Linked DNA regions of Homo sapiens: region 2 is linked to region 1. A link means that fine-mapping ties the variant in region 1 to the expression of a gene that starts in the linked region. Tissue or cell type: whole blood. Region 1 holds a variant in brackets; the other region holds the start of a gene. All regions are shown on one strand. Distances are between the middles of the regions.

Region 1 (10,626 bases):
AGATGGTGAAACCCTGTCTCTACTAAAAATACAAAAATCAGCCAGGCATGATGGTGGGTGCCTGTGATCCCAGCTACTTGGGAGGCTGAGGCAGAGAATTGCTTGAACCCAGGAGGCAGTGGTTGCAGTGAGCCGAGATCACGCCACTGCACTCCAGCCTGGGTGACAGAGCTAGACTTCGTCTCAAAAAAAAAAAAGACATACATGCAGCCAACAAATGTTAAAAAAAGCTCAGCATCACTGATCATTAGAGAAATGCAAATCAAAACCACAATGACATACCATCTCACACCAGTCAGAATGACTATTATTAAAAAGTCAAAAAAACAACAGATGCTGGCAAGGTTGCAGAGAAAAAGAAGTGTTTTCACACTGTTGGTAGAAATGTAAATTAGTTCCACCACTGTCAAAGGCAGTGTGACAATTCCTCAAAGACCTAGAGGCAGAAATACCATTTGACCCAGCAATCCCATTACTGGGCATATACCCAAAGGAATATAAATCATTCTTTTATAAAGATACATGCATGTGTATGTTCATTGCAGCACTATTCACAATAGCAAAGACATGGACTCAACCTAAATGCCCATCAATGATAGATTGGATAAAGAAAATGTGGTACATATACACCATGGAATACTATGCAGCCATAAAAAAGAAGGAGATCATGTCCTTTGCAGGGACATTGATGGAGTTGGAGGCCATTATCCTTAGCAAACTAACACAGGAACAGAAAGCCAAACCAAACACTGCATGTTCTCACTTATAAGTGGGAGCAGAATGATGAGAACACATGGACACATGGAGGGGGAACAACACACACCGGGGCCTGTCAGGGGAGGGGGTGGGGGAGAGAGAGCATCAGGAAAGATAGCTAATGGATTCTAGGCTTAATACCTAGGTGATGGGATGATCTGCGCAGCAAACCACGATGGCACACATTTACCTATGTAACAACCTGTATATCCTACACATGTACCCCTGAGTTTAAAATAAAAGTTGAAGAAGAAAAAAATAAAAAAGAAAACGTTGGTTGGAACGTTTATAAACATTTCATTTCATAATATGCAAATCTGAACCCTACAGCAGCGAGATTATCATAAACTCAAGTCTCCATTGAACACTAGGCATAGTGGTTTAGCCCACAGACTCTGGAGCCAGACTTCCTGGATTTGAACCCTGGCTTCCTCGCTTGTCAACTGTACGGCTTTGTGCTGGTTATTTCACCTCCCTGTGCCACAGCTCTCAGCTTTCCATGCCTATAATGACAATAATAACATTAGTACCTGCTTCACATTGTCTCTGTGAGACTTAATGAGTTAAAAATGTATAAAGTTCTTAAAATGGTAAATACTAACGAGGCTTTTGAGAAGAATAATATGCCACATAATAAGTCATTTCAAGTTTTCAGTAATAAAATAGTGCTTATATCCTTTGAACCACAGATTTATCCTGTTGCCTTTCCCCATCTAAGAACTGTCCTATTTTTCATGTGAAAAAGAAACAATGGAAATTTAGAAAGTAACAAAAAAAATATTCACTGGCAAGTTACACAATATTCAAATGTAGAAATGAGAGATTGTTCAGTTTGGAATATTTTATGGGAAAATATTAGATAGGAACTAAATATAACTTAGCCTAATCACACATGGTCTCCAGGCCTAGGGACACATTGACATTTTTTTTTTTTAAAGAAATTTCTTTATTTAAAACTGCATTTTTTTTTTCTGTGAAACTACACAAGTTTACAAGTGAGGAGAGAACTGCCCCCGGCCCATGCCTCCCACCCCCCAACCCATCACATTTCCAACCTGTCCCCAGTCCTGCCCGGATCTTTAATGGGAGGGGTTCCCCACTCTGACAGTCTTGTAAAATCCTGAGAATGTCTGAGGGGATCAGATGGTAGGGTTCAGGGCTGAGGATGGGACAGTGTTGATGTTACTTTTCCCCCACATCTGGCTTTTTGCAACCTCCTCCCTCTCCCTACCCCTTGATTTTGGTGTGACAAAAAGATACCTCATTTATGCGGAAATTGAGGAAGATACATATACAAGCACCCCAACCCATAATTAACATATTTGGCAATAACTCCCTTCCCATTCTTCCCCCTCCAATTTTCAAATAGAGTTTTTTAAAAAATTAAAGACATGTCACTCACAGGGGAAGATGGCATCTTCAATTTCCTCAAAATTACTGAGTCCAGCCCTGCCCAAGGGTTGTGGGAAGAAGGGGGATGAGAGGCCAGCAGGGCAAGCCCTTCACTGCCTCCACATCAAATGCGGCAGAAACCTGCCTGCATGAACAAAGAACACCTAATGGATTTTAGGGGGCAAAGCTTGGTGCCCTGTAAAATTTACTTCCTGATGGACAGGCCTGGAGCCAGGGGGGCCTCTTTACCAGTTCTGTTTGTCCCCCTTTCTCTTACCAGAACCCCTTTGGCTATCACCCCTAATATGGGAAAGTAAGAAATAAAAAAAAGACAAGAAATCAACATATTTATTTAAAAAAAAAAAACAAGCTACTTCCCCAAACTAAATTAAAAATTAAGAACCACCACCACCAACAACAACAACAACAAAAACAACAACAACAACAAAAACAGATGGATCCCAGGGTTTCTTTTTCTTTCTTTAAAAAAAAAAAAAAAAAAAAGTTCAACCCCAAAGCCCAGTCAATAATTCCCTAAAGTAGCAGAAACTCCCTCCGAGGTAGATATCTGAGTCAGACACTCTCGTCCACCAAGCGATTCTATTGGTTTAAGATGAGCTGCGTATGAGGTAAGTAAGCTGTCTGGAGGGGCAGGGGTGGGGATGCATGGGGGCGTGTCCCATGTCCTCTGTCCAGAAGTCATGTCCCCATTTTTGGCATCTCTGATTGGGCAGGGCTGGCGTCTCCAGATTCCAGAGCCTACAAGTGGGGTGGGGAAGGGAAAGTGGGGGAGCCCAGGAGAGAAACAGAATAGTTGCAAGTGGGAGTATGTGTGTGTGAGGTGTGGGAGAGGGAGAGAGAAAGACAGAGGAGAAAAAGGGGTCTGAGAAAATAGGTTTCTGGGTATGTGCATGTTTCTGTGTAAGAAAGAAAGCGAGAGAGGAAAAAGTTGGAAAAAAGGGAGAGACAGACCCCACACTCCCCTTAGGGGCCCCATTCTTCCTGCCATGTAATTAGCACCCCCAGCACAGACAGTCTCATTAGGGAGCGGATGACCCCATTGGCCCTTCTCTGTCTTGTGCTTCTCCTGTATTGGGGTTTGTCCTCTGGAAGCCTGCGTCCTCTTCAAGAGTCGCCTTGTGAGAGCCCCCACCCCTGTGACCCTGAGGGGCAAGATCAGTTGGAGGTATCAGAGTGAACACTCCCTGGTCCCTCCGTTGGGGATGTCACTGAAGAGGGGGTCACAGCCTCTTGCCAGCTGCCATTTGCCCTCATTTCCCGTGGGCTGTACATCTGGCCTCCCCCGAGGTTATCCCCATAGCCCCCTGGCCCCATCGAGCGTCGGAGTGATGCCACCTGGGAAGCAGAATAGGAATCTCCGTTGAGCCCAGGCATCCCCAGAAACATGTCTCCAGATCCTGAGATATTGAAAGAGCCGCCAGAGCCTGCAGAGGAAGGGGGTGTCGGGGAGCTGGTGCTGCTGTGGCCCCCCTGGGTGACTGACACGGCTGTCTTGACAGCATAGATGTTTGCCTCCTCTTGGAACTTTCCGATGTTTTTCTTATAGCGAATCTTCTTGTTGCCAAACCGGTTGGAGACCTGAGACACGGTGATGCCACACTTCTTGGCAAGCTCCTCCTTGGCCTCCTCACTAGGATATGGGTTACTCAGGTGGGAGTAGAAATACTCATTTAGGACCTCAGTGGCCTGTCTGCTGAAGTTACGGCGCTTTCGTCTGGCATCCAGGAAACGGGAGCGCAGCATCATCATAGCCTCGCAGGTGCTCTGCTTCAGCTGCATCTGGATGGCGCTGAACTTTCGATGGATGATGCTCACCATGCGTTCCATCTCTTTGGGGGCCACGGGCCTGGTGCGGCTCTGCTCCCTCAGCAGGTTCATGACATGGGTCGTGAACTCATTACATGCCTGCTCATACTTCTCCAGTTCCGAGTGGTATATGTGACGGATCTGGGCAAGTTTGCTGCGATAGTCCGAGTGTTCGATGGAGTTGTCAGGGGACACGCCACCACCAGAGGCTGCAGCGGCTGCAGCTGCTGCTGCTGAGCCGCCCCCTTTCTCGGGCCCAGCCACACCCTCTGCCAGAAGCATGTTGTCCAAGCGCATCAGCTGTGGGTCCACCGGCTCCTCCTCCTGGGAGCTCCGAATGCTGAGGCCGGTTTTCTCCTTGATTTCACACAGGACGCTAAAGAGAGCAGGCTTCATTCGGTGGCAGTTTAGGGCGTGTTTCTTGGCCTGGGCCTCGTCCAGGCTCTGGTCGGTGATGGTCATTATCTGCTGCAGAATGTCCCCGATGTCTTGCTTCCCTCGGCCTCCCGGGAACCCCCCGCTACCCCCACCGGGGTCTCCGCCACCAGGAGGCTCGCCAGGGCCCCCAGGCTCCCCACTCACCAATCCCAGGCCCCCCCCGGGCCCCGCCTGGAGGAGGCGGCCCCAGTAGCCGTTAGTCCATAGCTGGGGGGGGGCCCTGAGGCCCCCTCCCTGCTCAGCCCCTCCCCCCGCTTGGTTACTTCTCCCCACAAACTCGCTGGGGCCGCTGCTCCCTCCGCCCCAACCCCCGCCCGTCTGCCCCCGGCTCTCGGCTCCCCCGGGGGTTCACCCCGGCACTGAAGGGAGACCTGGGATACCGGCTGGGCCCCCCACAGGAGACCCCGGCCCCCGGCGGCGGAGAAAATGGAGCCGGAGAGAGAGAGGAGGCCCAAGCGGGAGTGTGTGTCCACATTGACATTTTGTGTTGGTGGGTATGCAGACAAGTGTGTATGAGTACTTTTGTATATCCTGGGCAATAAAATTTCAAGATTTTGCTATTTTAAATTGCTGAATTGAAAAAATAGCTATTTCTGGGTCATATACCATATTTGCTTGGATATCATGAACCCTTTGTTAGCAGACAGATTTTCAGTGTATGGCCAGATTTAAAGGACTCTTTTTGGGTATTGGTGAATTTACACTGAGGATTTCATGTTCCACTGCAGGCACCTTCTTCTCTGACCTCTCTCTGACTTAAAGCTTTGTCCCCAGTCTCTCGCTGGGTCTCTTCCTCTTACTAGCACAAATGCCAGACTCTGCCCTAAAACTTTCCTTCAAAACTCCACATATTCTTATGTCCTCATAGTCTCCCAAGCTAATTGCAAGTTTCCTCAAAAAAAATTTCTGTCCTTAAAGACATAATGTATGACTGAAAACCCTTCAGACCCCCTATTCTCGACGTAGGAAAGGCACTTTATATCATGTAAGTCCTAGTAAGGCTGAAGCTACAAAAGAAGCCTATAAACTTTCCAAATTCATTCTTGCTTGTCATCTCAAAAATGCACCTGAGGGTGTGGTTGGTTTGTGCCTCTCCCCAGGCCCATTCTTGCCCCTCTCTGTGCAGCCTTGGAGACTGCCTCCACTGGACCACATCAACCTGGCTCCACTGCCAGCTGGCTCTTGGTTGGGTTTGGCCAAGACCGACCCCTCAAGGTGAGGCAGGAGGAAAAAGAAGAGAAGATGTTGCCTTCCTGCTCCCACCCTGCCCTGCAGCATGTTTTCTGGTAGCGACTACATCTCTCCCTGACTTCAGCTCCCACCAGACTGGAGTAAAGCACTTTGCAATGTTCTTCATCCCTTCAGGCCTGGGGTGGTAATGACTGCCACTGTTGCTAGTCTCTGGGTGCCTCAGCAACCCTGCTCGTTCTCTTAATCCTGTCCACACCCCTTAAGGAGCCTCTTCTTTGCAGTCTCTTGAACTATGTGAATTGGATTGGTTTTTGCTAAGACCTTAACTGATAACAGAGCTCTGATAAAAATACAACAATTTTATGTAAATCCTAATTCTTCTCATTTTTAAACAAAAATAGGATATTTGCCTATACATATATAGTCTCAGAGGTTAAAAAAAGAAGCTTATGTTAAAATTTTTAATTTAGAATCCCACAAATTTAATCCACTTTAGCAAACTCCCTGGTCCCTCACCTTTGCTCCTCTCTCTGCCTGGAAATTCCCTAGATCTCCTCATGGCTGACTTTTTCTTGTCATTCAGACCTCAAAGTAATGGTTACCCATTTAGA[G/A]AAGGCTTTAAGTAGCCACCCACCTTCTCCCTCAGCATTTGAATTTAATCCTGTACACAACACCTTTTACTATTTGATATTCTTGCTATTTGTTTGTTTGTGTGCCCTGTCCCATGCTGGGACATGCGCCCTATGACAGCTGAGACTTTGTCCATCTTCTTCACTGCTCTGTCCTCAGCACTTGGCAACTACTTGGCAACATAGTAGGTGCTCAAAACCTATGTTGAGTGAATTAATGAATGAGTTGGCATTTTACAAGAGATAAATGAAATAAATTACTGTCCTTGTTCTCACAGAACTCACAAATGAAAGAAATTTATAGTAGAAGAAAGCATCATAATAGAAGAACACACAGACTCCCACATCTAGCCATGGCAAACTACTTTATGGCAGTGCAAACATCCCAGTGAACAAACCACAAAGGTGTGATAAAATGGAAAACAAACAAACAAAAACAAAAACAACCTGTTTTGAAGACATTGGAAACTCAAGGAAGCCAGGATTTTCAGGGCCAGGAGTCCAGAGTGAAGAGAAACTCACTGAGGTGAGCCCAAATCACTACTTTTCTCTTCAGAGCATTTTCTGATTCATATGCAGCATGTGTGGAAGGACTGAGAAGCCAAGTAGAAAGCAGCTGCTAAGAAGCAAAAAAAAAAAAAAAAAAAAAAGCAGAACAGAACTTTCACCACCTAACAGGGCTAGGAGTCCAGGGCCAGCAAGACAATCAGAACTTAAAGGGTCAAGATCCAGGAGAGAAAGGAAGCAGAAAGAAATGAGCCCAACCATGTGGGCAAACATTTTTCCCCTTGAGGCATTTACTGATTGATAAGAAGCACCTATAGAGAGGCATATAGTGGCTTCTGAGACTATAAGAAACTGGGCAGGACTATCAGCAGTGTTACAGTGCTGGAATAGTTTTTAAGTTTTCCCTGGAAAAAGAAAGTATCATTCATAATCTCTGCTATTTTATATATATATTTGGCATTCGATAAAATGTTAACAAACATATCAAGAGATATGACCAAGAAATTTTTTAAAAGATTATAGAAATAGACTCTCTAGAAATCCAAGGAGTTATATAAATACCTTAAAATCCTATGATTGATAAGCTGATAAAAATAGATAAGATTGAAAAAAAGTAACCAGAAAATTAGAATCTACAAAAAAGAAATCAAATGAAAAATCTAAACTGATATTACAAACTAAGAACTCAATAAATAGACTTAACAGAAGATTAGACACAGCTGGAAAAGGGACTAGCAATTTGGAAGATAAAACAATGGAAATTACTCAGAATGAAGCACAGAGAAAAAAGATAGAAAAAAATATAGGAGACCTATGGCACCTAGTAGAAAAATTTAACATATATGGAATTAGAGTCCAAAAGAGGAGGGAAAGACAGGAGGCAAAGCAATATGTGATAATGACCAAGAATTTTTCAAAGCTGACAAAAAAACGTCAAGCCACAGATTCAAGAAGCCCTTCAATCCCCATGAAGATAAACAGAAAGAAAAACGTGCCAACACACATCATGGAAATCTGCTGGAAACCAAATACAAAGAGAAAAAACTTAAAGATAAATACAAAATAATGTTTGCTTCAGAGAACTGGATAAAGATTCACAAAGAAGGCAACAATTCATTTATTCAACAAGAATTCACTGGGCACTTAATAAGCATCTATCACCAACTTGAGTCTTTAAAGAAACAAAGATATAAATTGCATTATCTCTGTTGTCTAGCAGTTCAAGTTTCATGTGTAAGAGAGATAGAAATGTAAACAAATTCTGCATAAAGCCTGCCAAAACGGATTTTTTTTTAACTGCAAAGGAAGAATGACGCTTGGAGCAGGCAGGTGTGAGGGGGCACAGAGAAGCTGCAGAATATTTGCATGTTGTCTTGCTAAAGTTTCTAGGCATTAAACAACCCAAGCAACAGCACAAAGGAATGAAATTGGACATCTCATCGAGCAATCGTGAGTTGTCTCTTGGGGTTCAGCATGGGGAGATGACAGGGAGTTGCAGAAAATGAGGCTGAAGAGTAAAGTTGGAAACAGATTCAGTAGGCAGTTGGGACTTACCACAAGTTTTTTCAGTAGGAAAGGGACATCACCAAGTCATTCTTTAGGAAGAGCACTCTGGGGCAACTTCAAGGGTACTCTTGAGAGGAAATCGATAGCAGCCCATGAGACCAACTAGACAGCTACTTGTCATGGTCCAGGCAAGCAAGAGAGAGTACGGCCTGAACTAGGGCAACAAAAATAGAAGTGACTACATGAGAGGGTATTCTCTAGACATTTCAAAGCCAGAATCAACAGGACTTAGCAGCCATTGCTTGTAGGAGACAGAAAAATAAGTCCAAGTTGACTTGGGTGTGTGGAGGATGTCACAATGATGTTAACACAAGGATAATATCATGAGGCTTGTTGCGTTAGAAACATCAATAGAACATTTCTGAAATGTCCATCAGGGAGCTGGAAAGTCCAGTTTAGAGCCCAGATGCAAAATTAGGAGCTGATACCAAGCTGTGAGGGCAAAGGAGAGAATGAGGCAGCCTGTGGCCTGGCAGAGCAAGAACTGAATAAAGACCAGTGACCCTGAAGTTAACACATCTCAGGAAATACAGATTATCCCAACAAAATAGTCTTAGGTTACTCATTCTGAGACTTGTGAAAATATTTTAATTAAAAAGAAATCATTAGGATGCGCATTACACAGGAAAACTGTTTGAGAAACAGATCTATTACCCTTTGTATTTTATGTTGTCCTGAAGCCTTTTGCTAAGCTGCATCCCAATTTTTTCTGCTTATACAGCAGAAACACTAATGATATGAGCTGTAGTTAAAAAGCACTTTCCAAGTCTGCTACTTGAAAACTTCAGTATGAATAATGTCAGAGGCATGGGGGAGGTGGTTAAAGGCTATGTCTCTGCTGTGTTTTTAAAATAATGCACATCAAATAAAGAAGAAACACCACTTAAAACTGAGATTAAATTTCCATTACATTAACCAATTACTTTGATTTAAGTATCTATGTATATATACACATATACATACACTGTCTGTATGTGCCAAGTGGGAAATTTTTTCTCTGTTATCAGTCAATTCCTCTCATTTCACTTATGATATATGGATAAGAACCTAACTTTGTCAGAGATTAGGAGCATTTTTGCAGCCCCACATTACTGCAGAATACTAAAGTTCAGGTCAAGAATAACAGACTTCCTTCTGCTGCAGAAATTTTCTCACAGAGCTACACCGGATGCAATTTGAACTTTTGTGTTTCTTAACTACTTGTGGTTTATTTCTTTAAGTCAGTTGATCTTGCTTCAAGTCCCTGAGGCCACTAGAGAGAGGCAGCTTGTTAAGATTTGTGCATCTGATCTTTGAAGATGACTCCCCAGATTCCTTTCCTACACCCCTAAAAACCAGCACCCAATAGTATCTACTCTATCGTGGGCCTAATTAGAGAGCAAAACAATTAACAGTTACTGAGTTCCTCCTCTGTGTTCAGCACTGCTTCATGTAACAAGAAGCAAAGAAGCCGTGGAAGAGATTTAAGTAAATGGAAGACAGAAGTTATATTTTTAAAGAAACTAACCAAAAATAGCAAGACACTATCATTGAGGGCTAAACTGAGCAGCATCCAGTATTAAATGCTGTAGGATCTTCTACAAAGGAGAGACTTGAGTGGACTGTGTGAATCTGGAAGGCTCTGTGAAGGAGGGAGAATTTAACCCTGGAAACACTAGTGGGTCTCTTTTACCCCTTTGCTCTGGGTGTAGCATTTATGTTACATTTTGGCACCCAGCCAAGGAAGAACGTTATACCACAGACCTGGTATTAGACACAGTTGAATTCTTTGAAAATTCAAGCCTTCTTCATCACACTTTGTAGTAAGAGGTCAAAGCTACAGTTTCTCTCACTGCCAAGCCCTCATCTGTGCTGCCTGTTCCAATATTACACACACACACACATACACACACACATACACAGCTGCCTGAACTTGTATAGAGGTAAAGCAGGGAGAAGGATTCTCTTTCCCCAAAGTCTGTAGCCTTATGTGAAGAGGGATAGTGCAGCTGATTCCAGGCCAATCTCAGGCCACATGGCGGCATCATGGAAGCTGGTCTGCAGAGCCCCTAGTTCCTCACCTCTGCCAACAGCCTCCTTTCATCCTCATTTACCTCCCTCTGGAATGTTTTCTCAGTAAGTTCAGATATCATGGGTTGTCACTCACCACGTTTATTAAGCACCTACAAAGCACAAAGTACTCTGCATGGAGTAGAATCTGTGAACCCAATGAACAAGGGAAGGAACTGCCAAGAAGTATACAATCTATAGGGGGACCTGACCGAAAATTCTAAGGCTGGCAGTATGCTAGAATTGTACACAGACAAAGCTATAGGATGGT
Region 2 (10,626 bases), 57 kb after region 1:
TGAACTTGTACTGTATTTACTGTCATATACAACTACACTGTCTCTTGTTCCCATTTGGGCTTCACAATTTCTTCTCATAGTATAACATTCTGCAGAATGTTTCAGTACCAAATGGGTTCAGGACACAACATCATAACCACTACAGGAAAATGTAACGGTTTTCTCCCTGGAAAATACCAAATTTCAAAATCCTACACACTAGTTCATTTTCATTTCCTCTTTACCACAATTCATTATCATATCTAAAAGAAGCTCTTGGCTGAAGCCTTATACTGTCTGCAGCATGTTACTTTCTTTGCAAATTTACTTTTAGGAAACATGATAAAGAAAAGCAACATATTCCACAGGCATCCCAAGTAAAGCATTATAAATTCATATTCTCTCTTGCACTGATTTAAATGGGAAGCAAGTAAGAAAAGGGAAAACCCTTACGGTTCTCAGATGAAACTTCGCTGCTTTCATCCACCTCCACATACCGTGTCAGGGTCAGAAAAACACTCCAAATAGATACTTCTGTCACTTTGCTAAACCAACGAAGCTGCTACCATCGCCAGCAGTATGTTCACGCTACTTTCCTGAGGTCTGTGTTCTAATCATCAGAACTTTTAAAAATTACATACTTTTTTTAAAAATCCTTTTTCTGAACCAGCCTCAGCACCAAAACATTGGTCTCTGCTTCAAGGTTCCCCATTTTAACTGAAGAGGAATGAAAAACCAAATGCCTTCAAGTCCTGAAGGAGTTGCTTCTTCCTGTGTTCAAAGTTGAAGAGAGTAGTGTGCTTTTTCTTCCACTGCCCTGTTTGGTTTCTGCCTTTAGAATACAAAGATGTGTTTCACTCCTGGACACCTAACAGGCTGAGATTTACATGTGAGAAAACATCCCCCAGGTTATTACCAAGGAGGCAAAAATTGCTCCCACCCAGTTTAGCTGCCTTTCAGGAAAGAGACTGGAAAAATGGAAACGAGGGAGGGGAAGGAGATTCTATCTGAAGCTGAGGACAAGTAACACAGGTGAATCCAAAGTAATGGAGGCAAATATTAAAAAGAATATTATTTATTATCTTCTTTATTAATACTCACATGTAACCTTTGCTTTTTACACAAAAGTCTGCTTTAGAAGAATGCCTCCTCGGCTTATCATGCCCAATGGGGCTTTTTGTTTCTGGACCACTTCCCCTTTCTCCACCCCCACCCCCACATCCAAATTACTCTTAACATGTTCACAGATACCACGAATATTTTGTAAACAAGATTTGGGTTACTGGAACTTGATTTCATTAACATCCCACTTCAAAATGGAAGGCAGGTGGAGGACAGGGTAAGAAATAGGAGAAAGAGGACAAGAGAAGGCAAAGAAGAAGAGGGGCACCTGGTCAGAACGTTCAAGTCTTGCCTTTTCTTAGGGGTGTGTATTTTGTGGCTGTTCCTTGAAATGCACTGACTCAAAACATTGACAGCAAGTGTGTGTGTGATTATTTATATATCTATAATAGAATATGTGGGCTTCCTCCGTTTGAGTCTGGACTGTGTTTATTTAAACACACTACGATCCTCTTTATAGGTATCACCACAGGGAATCAGGTCTCCTGGGAACCCCTTTTAGAGACGGGGCTTCCGAAGCAGGGTCTTGCTGAGGTCTTTGACCTCCTCAGGGCTGTTGACCCGCTCATAGCCCAGGACGGCCATGGGCTGGTAGCAAAACTCCTCCACCTGTTTGATCTGCTGGAAGGTGAGGGCGGTCCGCCAGGCATTGGCGGCCTGCGTGGCATTGCGTGCAGATACCACGAAAGGCTTGGAGGAGGAGCCCGAGCCACTGGTCATGTTCAGGGCAAACTGCTCCATTTCGGGGCTCACCAACAGTCCCACAAAATCGTACACTCTCCGTAGTGTCTTGACGGGGTCTCCCACCAGGTCCTCGTACCGCACCACCAGGTAGTGGCCCTGCAGCCAGTCAGGGGGCTGCAGGGCTGTCTGCAGCGTCTTAGCCATACTATTGCAGATGACCTCCATAGCGCCCAGAGCGTGGTAGTCTGCGGGGCCGCCCACGCCCTCCTTCTTGGCGCCAAGCTTGTGGCCCGCGGCCTCCAAGAAGGGCATGCGGTGAGCTCGCGGGTCTCGGCTGCGCACCACCTGTAGGCTCTCACGGATGAGGCCGTGGCGCGAGCGGATCCGTGAACTCGCCACCGCGCGGGGATCACGCACCAAGTGGATGACCTTGAGGTCCAGGGCCGGGTCTCGCAGCAGTGGCGCCAAGACCGCCACGTCGAAGACGCGCACACCCTTTATGACTAGTGTGCGGTACTTGCGGCACTCCTCCTCGAAACGCGCCAGGCGCTGTGGCGGGCACTTCTTGCACACGCGGTCGTCCACCAACCCCACGACCTCCTTGCGGTAGGCGGGGCAGAGTGGTGACGAGCACACCACCTTGTTGGTGGCTGCGCCGAAGATGCCCAGCGTGGTGAGGTTGCGCCCCCCGCTGCCCGCGGGGCTATACAACTGGAAGACAGAGAGGTCGCAGCGGTAAAGAGCGCTCAGCATGTCCCGCGCTGCCCCCTGCAGGGAAACGGCGTCCCCCGGATACAGTTTTTGCCATACATGCCACACTGGCTCGTAGAGAAAGAACACCTCGGGATTCTGGTTGAATAGCTCGCCGAAGAACGACGAGCCAGAGCGCCACGTGGTGAACACGTACACCAGCTGCCGCTTGTCCCCGACGCCCCCGGTGCCCCGAGTGCCATTGCCTGGAGGGGCCGCAACCCCCGCCATCCCTGCCGCGGCTGCAGGAGCCGCCCCGACGGCGGCAGCGGGAGGGCGGTAAGGAGTGCGGAGGTCCAAACGGGCATGAGCACGGGGCGGCCCGGCCGGAGGCGGCCCTGGGCGCCCCCAGCTGCCTCCGGCTGCCCCCGCTGCGGCACCCAGCGGCCCATCGGGGTTGCACTGCTGCAGCGGCTCCTTGTGCCACTTGTAGTCCAGGAGGTTGAGCATAGTGAGCACCAGCAGCAGTGCATAGCCCGCGCACAACACCAGCGCCTTCCTACGGAACACCTTCATTCCGAGAGGGGACGCGGGCCAGCGGCGTCCTGGGCGCCGGGGCCACTGCGGGAGCAGGGCACGCGGCGCGGCTGCAGGCGCAGCCTGGAGCAGCCGAGGGAGCGCGCCCGGGGGCAGAGCTCGCTGCGGGCTGCGGCTCATCACAGGCACAATCCGGGCCGGCGGCGCGGCGGAGGCAGCCCTGCAGCCCGGGAAGGGGACGCAGCGGGCTGGCTGCTGGCGCCGGGACTCGGGCCGCGACTCCGAGGCGGGCGCGGCGGCTGGTCCCCAGCGCCCAAGGCTGGCTCTCCCATGGCAGCGGCTCCGGGTAGGACCTGCGAGGGGAAGCGGAGTGAGCGGATGCGCCCCAATCTCCCTCCCAGCCTCCTCCTCCTAAGTAACGCCCACCCTCGGTTCTGCCCGGTTCCTCCGCTCACCTGGAGCCGAGGGCGCGCCCGGGAGCGGCCCCGGATCACCGCCCGGCGGACTGTCCGGCTGTCACTCGTTCCTCGATTTCGCTCCCTCTCGCTTCCGCTGGGGGTCCCCGCACCTTCGAGGGGTCTGGGGAGTCGGCCGACTTATCCCTGGGCAGTTTCCGGGCAGCGGGCGCCCTGCGGCTCGGGAAGAAAAACTTTCACGCGGCCCAGAGCCCCGCTCCGCGCTCCGCCGAACCCGGCGCCTCCCGGCTCCAGCGACGTCTCCTCCGCTTTCTCGGGACCGCAGCTTCCTGTCTCGCTCAGGGGAACGAAGCCGGCTGGGGGCGATGGCTGGGGGCGGCTTATATGGGACTCAGCTCCCGGCATAGCGGCGCAGCCCCTCTCGCTTTCGGCCTCCGTGCGGCGAATTTTCCCACCTCTCTGGCAGCGGTGGATGGGGCACAGCGCGACCCCGCAGCGGCGGCGGCGGCTGCTTCCATCACCGGGAGGATGCCCGGGCGGACAGCGCAGGCAACCCCCGCCGCTCCGCAGCCTCCGACTGGACCAAAGGACCCCGAACACACAGCTCTAGGCAAGGAAACCCAGGTGTGCAGCACTGCCCGACCCGACCCAACCCGCCCCCGGTACCAGCGCTTCTGGCCAACGAGGTATTTAAGCAAAGAAAGACCCCGCCGCAGCCGCCGCCGCCGCGCGAAAGCGGCGCCCAGGAGGATGCTGCTACCCGACTCCCCTTACGCCGGGCGCCCGCAACGCGCTCGGACCAGCCTCTGCGCGGCTCCTGCCAGCCGGCGCCCGGTTGGTGCGCGCCGCCGTCTGTCGCCGCGGCTCCTCCCCTCCGCCGCGCAGCCCTCCCCCTTCGCCGGCCCCGCCCCCGCCCCCAACGCCGAGCCGGCTCCCACCGTCGCTGCGCCTCGGGGGCTGGAGACGCGACCCGCTTTACCGCGACGCGCGGGGGCTGCAGTCCACGGGTCCGAAGGCTTAGCTCTGCGCGCAAAGCGCCGGGATGCGAACGCGGGATCTGGAGCTCGTCGGTGCCGAGAGCTGCCAGAGAGTTGGATTCTGCGTGCAGCTGCCGGACTCGGCCCCATGTTTTTGCTCTCAGAAAGAGTTGGTGATGAAGTTTGGGCAGAAATCCCCTGTCGGCCGTCCGCTCCACGCTTCCCTCGGGGCCGACACTGCCAACCTCTCCGGGCACTGAGGACACCTCTGCGCCCTGGAGCGGTGGGAGGACGCGGAGCGCCGTTCTCTGGCTTCCGACACCCTGCCCGCCCTCTCTAGTGGGTCTGTGGCTGCGCCCTCTCGAAGGAAGTAATAAATCTTTCTGACCTTGGGGGTCAGAGGAGACGCTTCAGTTTTCCGGAGGGGTGTGCGGGCGGGACCGTCTTTCCGCTTTACTGGACCTCTGGCCGGGGCTGCTCTTGTTTCATTGTGCCCCACATGCGGAGCCCCGATGCTCTCCGCATTTCCGCTCGCGGTGCTGCGTCCACTGTGATTGACGTCCTCTGGAATTGGGGTGATGGGGGAGGGGAACGCCCCGTTCTAATTTGCAGAAAAATACTTGTCCCGCTTCTTGGTTTTGTAGATGAGATCAAAGAACTTGACCCCAAAGGAAACACCGTTGTTGAAAGAAAATCATTTTTCAGTTGCTTTAGGTTTAAGTACTTTTGTTTAAGGTTATGAGGAAAAGCGTCTCTCTCTCCCCCCAACTCCCTCCCTCCCCAAGAACACTAAGCTGTAGCCTCAACTTCATCTGTAGAATGGGGACAGTTGTAACAGCCTCCGGAGACTGAACGGTGGTTGAGTATCAGAGCGCGCACACGAAAGGTTAGACCTGAGTTCAGGCCTCCAAGTGCCGAAAAGGGAATCTCCGTGGGGCCTGAGGCTCAGCACCCTCGGATAAACAGAGCTCTCGCTGATCCGGAGTTTTGTTGCCTCCTGTCCCAGTAGAGTTTTTAGAAGTTACTGCACAATTATCTTTGTAGCGTTTCGGGCAGACTTTTCAGAGGACCGTTCTAACATTAAAATATTGCTGTTTGCGCCATTATTCTTCCATGAGTCTTACAGAATCCCCTGAGTACAAAGACTTGAAAAGTGACTTAACTCGCTTTCCACGGGTTTTTAACTCTCTTACGGATTTAGTTTCAGGGGAGAAAAATGTTCAAAAAACTTATTTATCCTTGTTTTCCAGAAAAACCCATAATGTCACGAGTACAGTTCAGCTTATTTTTTCTCCTGGGGAGGGGGATTGGGACAAGGACAGCAGAGCTCAAATTTTATATCCAGCTTTCTCAAATAATATGGCATTGCCTCTGGAAGTGGGTCGAGACAGGCAAGAATCCCTGTTAACAGATGAAGGTGGTAGAGTTTAATTGAGCGACTCCCCATCTTTTCCTTTTCTGGAATCCCCAGCCTCCCTTCGCCTACTCTCTCAAATGCCCCTGCCCCTTTTTCACCACCTCTTTTACCACGAAAACTAAAATGACATTGGTGCATGAAAAGACTGATGGGAGAGAGAGGGAATTGGGGAGGAAAGTAAATCTCAATTTTAATATTCAACATGATTCCAAGAAAAATAATTTCTAATATTTTTCATTTAGTTTCTGGCTTTGTGCTTACCCAGAAAAAAACTGAATTGCATTAGTCGATGTAGGGACCCTTTTTAAAAACAATTGTTTGCATAGAAATAATTCCGTTTGCAATTTTGTAACACTTTACTGGTGTTGGCAAAATAGTAAATCCATTTGCCAGGTGCCCCCACAGTGCTCAGCTGGCATAAATTTACGGGTTCTGGCATCTCCACCCTCTCCTTGCTTGCAAATTTTTCCCATTTTGCATGGTGTCATGATTAATTCTGAACTTTGTTATAGCTAATGACATCTGAAAACTTCATAATGCCTTCCTTCCCGCATTTGTTTGGAAATTCCTTTCATTTTAATCTACTTATTTTAGCATAGTAATGACCCAGACATATAATATGTCACATAATAATGTCACTTGCACAAGAGCCAGTCATGCCACAGGGCTAGCCTTAATTTCGGCTCACTGGTTTAGTTTGTCACAATTCCATCTCCCCCAGGATGCTCTTTCAGTCTCTGTCTTCTCTGCTGCCTGTTATGTTCTATTGGAAACTGTCAGGCCTCTGAGCCAAAGCTAAGCCATCATATCCCCTGTGACCTGCATGTACACATCCAGATGGCTGGTCCTTGCCTTAACTGATGACATTCCACTACAAAAGAAGTGAAAATGGCAGGTCCTGCCTTAACTGATGACATTACCTTGTGAAATTCCTTCTCCTGGCTCATCCTGGCTCAAAAAGCTCCCCCACTGAGCACCTTGTGATCCCCCCCTCCACACCTGCCCACCAGAGAACAACCCCCTTTGACTGTAATTTTCCTTTACCTGCCCAAATCCTATAAAACGGCCCCACGCCTATCTCCCTTCACTGACTCTCTTTTCGGACTCAGCCCGCCTGCACCCAGGTGATTAAAAAGCTTTATTGCTCACACAAAGCCTGTTTGGTGGTCTCTTCACACTGATGCGAGTGAAAGAAACTTGCTGTGGCTTTTGCTTAATCCTGGACAAATGTCCAGAGATCTTCAAGGACTTTCTTCCAGAGTCTGAACTGGGGAAAGATGCAAGGCTGGGTTACCTGAACAGTTCCCATTTGGGCCTATCTGTGTGAATCCTAGAAGATTCACCTTTGGAAAATGTTTGCCCCTGGGCACCAAGATAGATTCACTCCCTCATATTTTGAACAAATATGCATTTTCAATAGAACTTGAGATTATAGATTCAGGTTACTCATAATCCTTGATTTAAGATATGCTGCCATTGTTAGTCCAAGTGGCCCTTTTAAATGTCCTATGTTTTAATATAATGAATATGCATGAACCCATTACACAGCCCAAAAACCTCCAAGAGTAACCGCTCTACTTAGTTTAGAAACTGAGATGAAATGATAAAGTTCTAACAGGAAGGAAAAACAACTTGCTTTAACAATCTCAAAAAGATACAAGACTACTTATGGCCGGGCACGGTGGCTCATGCCTGTAATCCCAACACTTTGGGAGGCTGAGGTGGGCATATCACTTGAGCCTAGGAGCTTGAGACCAACCTGGGCAACATGGCAAAACCCCATCTCTACAAAAACTACAAAAAAATTAGCCAAGTGTGGCAGTGCATGCCTGTAGTCCCAGCAACTCGGGAGACTGAGATGGGAGAATTACCTGACCCCAGGAGGTCAAGGCTGCAGTGAGCCATAATGGTGCCACTGCACTCCAACCTGGGCAACAGAGTGAGACCCAGTCTCAAAAAAAAAAAAAAGAAAAAGAGGTTGGGCACGGTGGCTCACACCTGTAATCCCAGCACTTTGGGAGGCCGAGTTGGGCAGATCACCCGAGGTCAGGAGTTTGAGACCAGGCTGAAACCCCGTCTCTGCTAAAAATACAAAAATTAGCCTGGTTTGGTGGTGCGCACCTGTAGTCCCAGCTACTCGGGAGGCTGAGGCAGGAGAATTGCTTGAACCCGGGAGGCAGAGGTTGCAGTGAGCCAAGATCGCGCCACTGCACTCCAGCCTGGGCAACAGAATGAGACTCTGTCTCAAAAAAAAAGAAAAGGAAGGAAAAGAAAGAAAAAGAAGAAAAACAGTACTTACAAATTGAAACAACACTATTACCAGAGGGATTTAAAGGAGGGTTCCACCAAACTTTCAAGAACTAGATTGTTTCAGTCTTATCTCTATCAGAGAAGAGAACAAGAGGGAATATTTCCCCCAACTCATTCAAAGGGGATAATAACTACAGAGGGATTTCAGAGAAGAAATTTGGTACTGTCTCTGATTAATTTATACATAAAACTCTTAAATAAAATATAAGCAAAACAAATCCACTCAAGTGGGGAAAAAAGGACAATAAACTAGAACCAATTTGGGTTTATCCCAGAAATATAAGGATGACAATAAATATTTAGTAAGCACCTATAATGTACCAGGTGCTGGTCTAGCTATGTGAGATGCAAAAGTGAAGCAGACAGGCCTAGACCCTACCTTCATGAAGTTTACACTCTAGAGTGGGAGATACTCAGTGCACACACATTTAAACAAATAAGATTATTTTTGAGAATGGTAAGTACTATAGAAGAAATAAAATATTAATGTGATGGAGAGTGACTGGAAACAGCTATTTTTAAATTGGGAAAGTAAGGTTTGCAAAGGGGAGGTGACCCTTGCAAAGAATGAGGATGCAGCCAGATGAAAACTGAGGGATGAGAGTTGCATGCAGACGATACTGCAAGTGCAGAAGCCCTGAGTGGGGATGAGGTCTAGCCCAGTGAATGCGATTATGCTGTCTACCTGATTGGGGTGTGCCTGGTTTACAAAACCTGAAGGGGTTTCCTTAACATAGACTTTAAAAATCAATTTGTTAAGAAGCACAGATTGGGCACAGTGGCCCACTCCTATAATCCCAGCACTTCGGGAGACCAAGGTAGGAGGATCAATTGAGCCCAGGAGTTTGAGACCAGCCTGGGCAACATAGAGAGACCCGCCCCCCAAAACCCTCCCACTACCCCTTACCCCCATATCTACAAAAAATATTAAAAATTAGCTGGGCATAGTGGCACAGGCTTGTAGTCCTAGGTACTCGAAGGCTGAGGTGGGAGGCTCACTTCATTCAGCCCATGAGTTCAAGGCTGAAGTGAGCCATGTAGGTGCCAGTGCATTCCAGCCTGAGTGATACAGCAAGACCCTGTCTCAGAAAAAAGGAGGAGGTGGTGGCAGGGGGCAGGAAGGGGAAATAAGAAAAAGAAGAAGCACAAAATGGATGTTATGGGAGAAGCGCACACAGGTTTGCTTCTCTAAGAACATATGTAGCTAATTTCTAAATGTGTCACTCTGGTGTTGTCTTTGAGCACCCCTCTCTCTTCCCCAGACTCCACTTGGAGTTCCTCAGCCTTTCTGCATCTTCACCTTTGAGACCTAGCCCAGCTGTCTACTTCCCGGGTCTCACCCCAGCCTGGAAGATTGGTAACAAAGCCTGTGGCTTCTTCTTGCAGTTTTTTCCTTCCAGATATTAGAGGACAGGAGCTAGCTAGCTGGACCAGGAGATGCTCCGCCACCACACCTATAACCACTGACTTCTCTAGTCTGCCAGCCATTGCTCTGTTCCCTGTGGTAGGCATCCTATTGGGTTCTGCCTGACCCACATCCATTCTTTTCTGTGGTAACAGTATCTGAACCAATGCACCCCATTGTACGTGGATTTGGTGGGACCTTCAGCCAAAGTACTCCTCCCCTCCTCCCAAGGGGCAGGTACATGACCCAAGCTCAACCAATTAGATGTTCTCTCCATGAAAGTTGCATTCATTCATTCACTCAGTCACTCATTCGGTCATCCTATATGTATTGAGTTCCCACCATGTGCCAAGCAATCTGAATCTTTAGCAGAGAGATTCATAAGAAGGAAAATGGTTGCTGCCCTCTCGGGCCAACAGCAGAGCCCTAAAGCAATGGCTCATTATCTCTCAGAAGGGACCCTACCCTTTTTAAGACTATTGTTTGTTCTTTGTTTAAAGTCTGTGAGCTACCCCAAATGCTTCCCCAAATCCCTTTCGCCTCCTGCTTATGTTACTCACCGTCCATTTCTGTTATTTACAATCAAAAATTTCTGGCTGGGTGCAGTGGCTCATGCCTGTAATCTCAGCACTTTGGGAGGCCAAGGCAGGTGGATCACTTGAGGTCAGGAGTTCAAGACCAGCCTGGCCAACACAGTGAAACCCCTTCTCTGCTAAAAATACAAAAAATTAGCCAGACGTGGTGGCATGCACCTGTAATCCCAGTTACTTGGGAGGCTGAGGCAGGAGAATCGCTTGAACCCAGGAGGCAGAAGTTGCAGTGAGCCGAGATTGTGCCACTGTATACCAGCCTGGGTGACAGAGCAAGACTCCATCTCAAAACAAACAAACAAAAAAAAAAACTCTAATTGACAGGCTGGCTTACTGCCTAATTACAGATTTGGTTTCATTCATGCTTTTGTCCCTGTGCCTTGTTCTCCATCTGTCCTTACAATGGGGCTTTCTCTTTGAATCCCCACTTTTAAATTCTGGTTTCTAGAGAGCCAGTCATCCTAAGGAACTCCGTCTCTGCCGCACATCAACATCAGTG

The links. PIP is the estimated chance that this variant, and not a neighbour inherited with it, causes the effect.
Region 2: CHST2 starts here. The variant in region 1 is fine-mapped to the expression of CHST2 in whole blood (TOPMed, PIP 0.94).

Annotation. Positions count from the first base shown.
Region 1 is chr3:143,170,318-143,180,943 of GRCh38, reverse strand. It overlaps the pseudogene PBX2P1. Among named protein-coding and RNA genes, the nearest start is that of CHST2, 56 kb to the right of the region's middle. RefSeq lists an enhancer at 9,628-9,767. The variant G/A (reference allele first, on the strand shown) is at 6,216.
Region 2 is chr3:143,113,383-143,124,008 of GRCh38, reverse strand. CHST2 (carbohydrate sulfotransferase 2) reads right to left here and starts at 4,238. Exons shown (of 2, transcript NM_004267.5): 1 at 3,468-4,238; 2 at 1-3,365. The coding sequence starts at 3,192. The coding sequence ends at 1,600. RefSeq lists enhancers at 1,597-2,238, 2,881-3,522, 3,846-3,895, 4,181-4,680, 4,876-5,005 and 2 more and silencers at 2,696-3,055, 3,116-3,315, 3,376-3,455, 3,506-3,555, 3,586-3,635 and 1 more.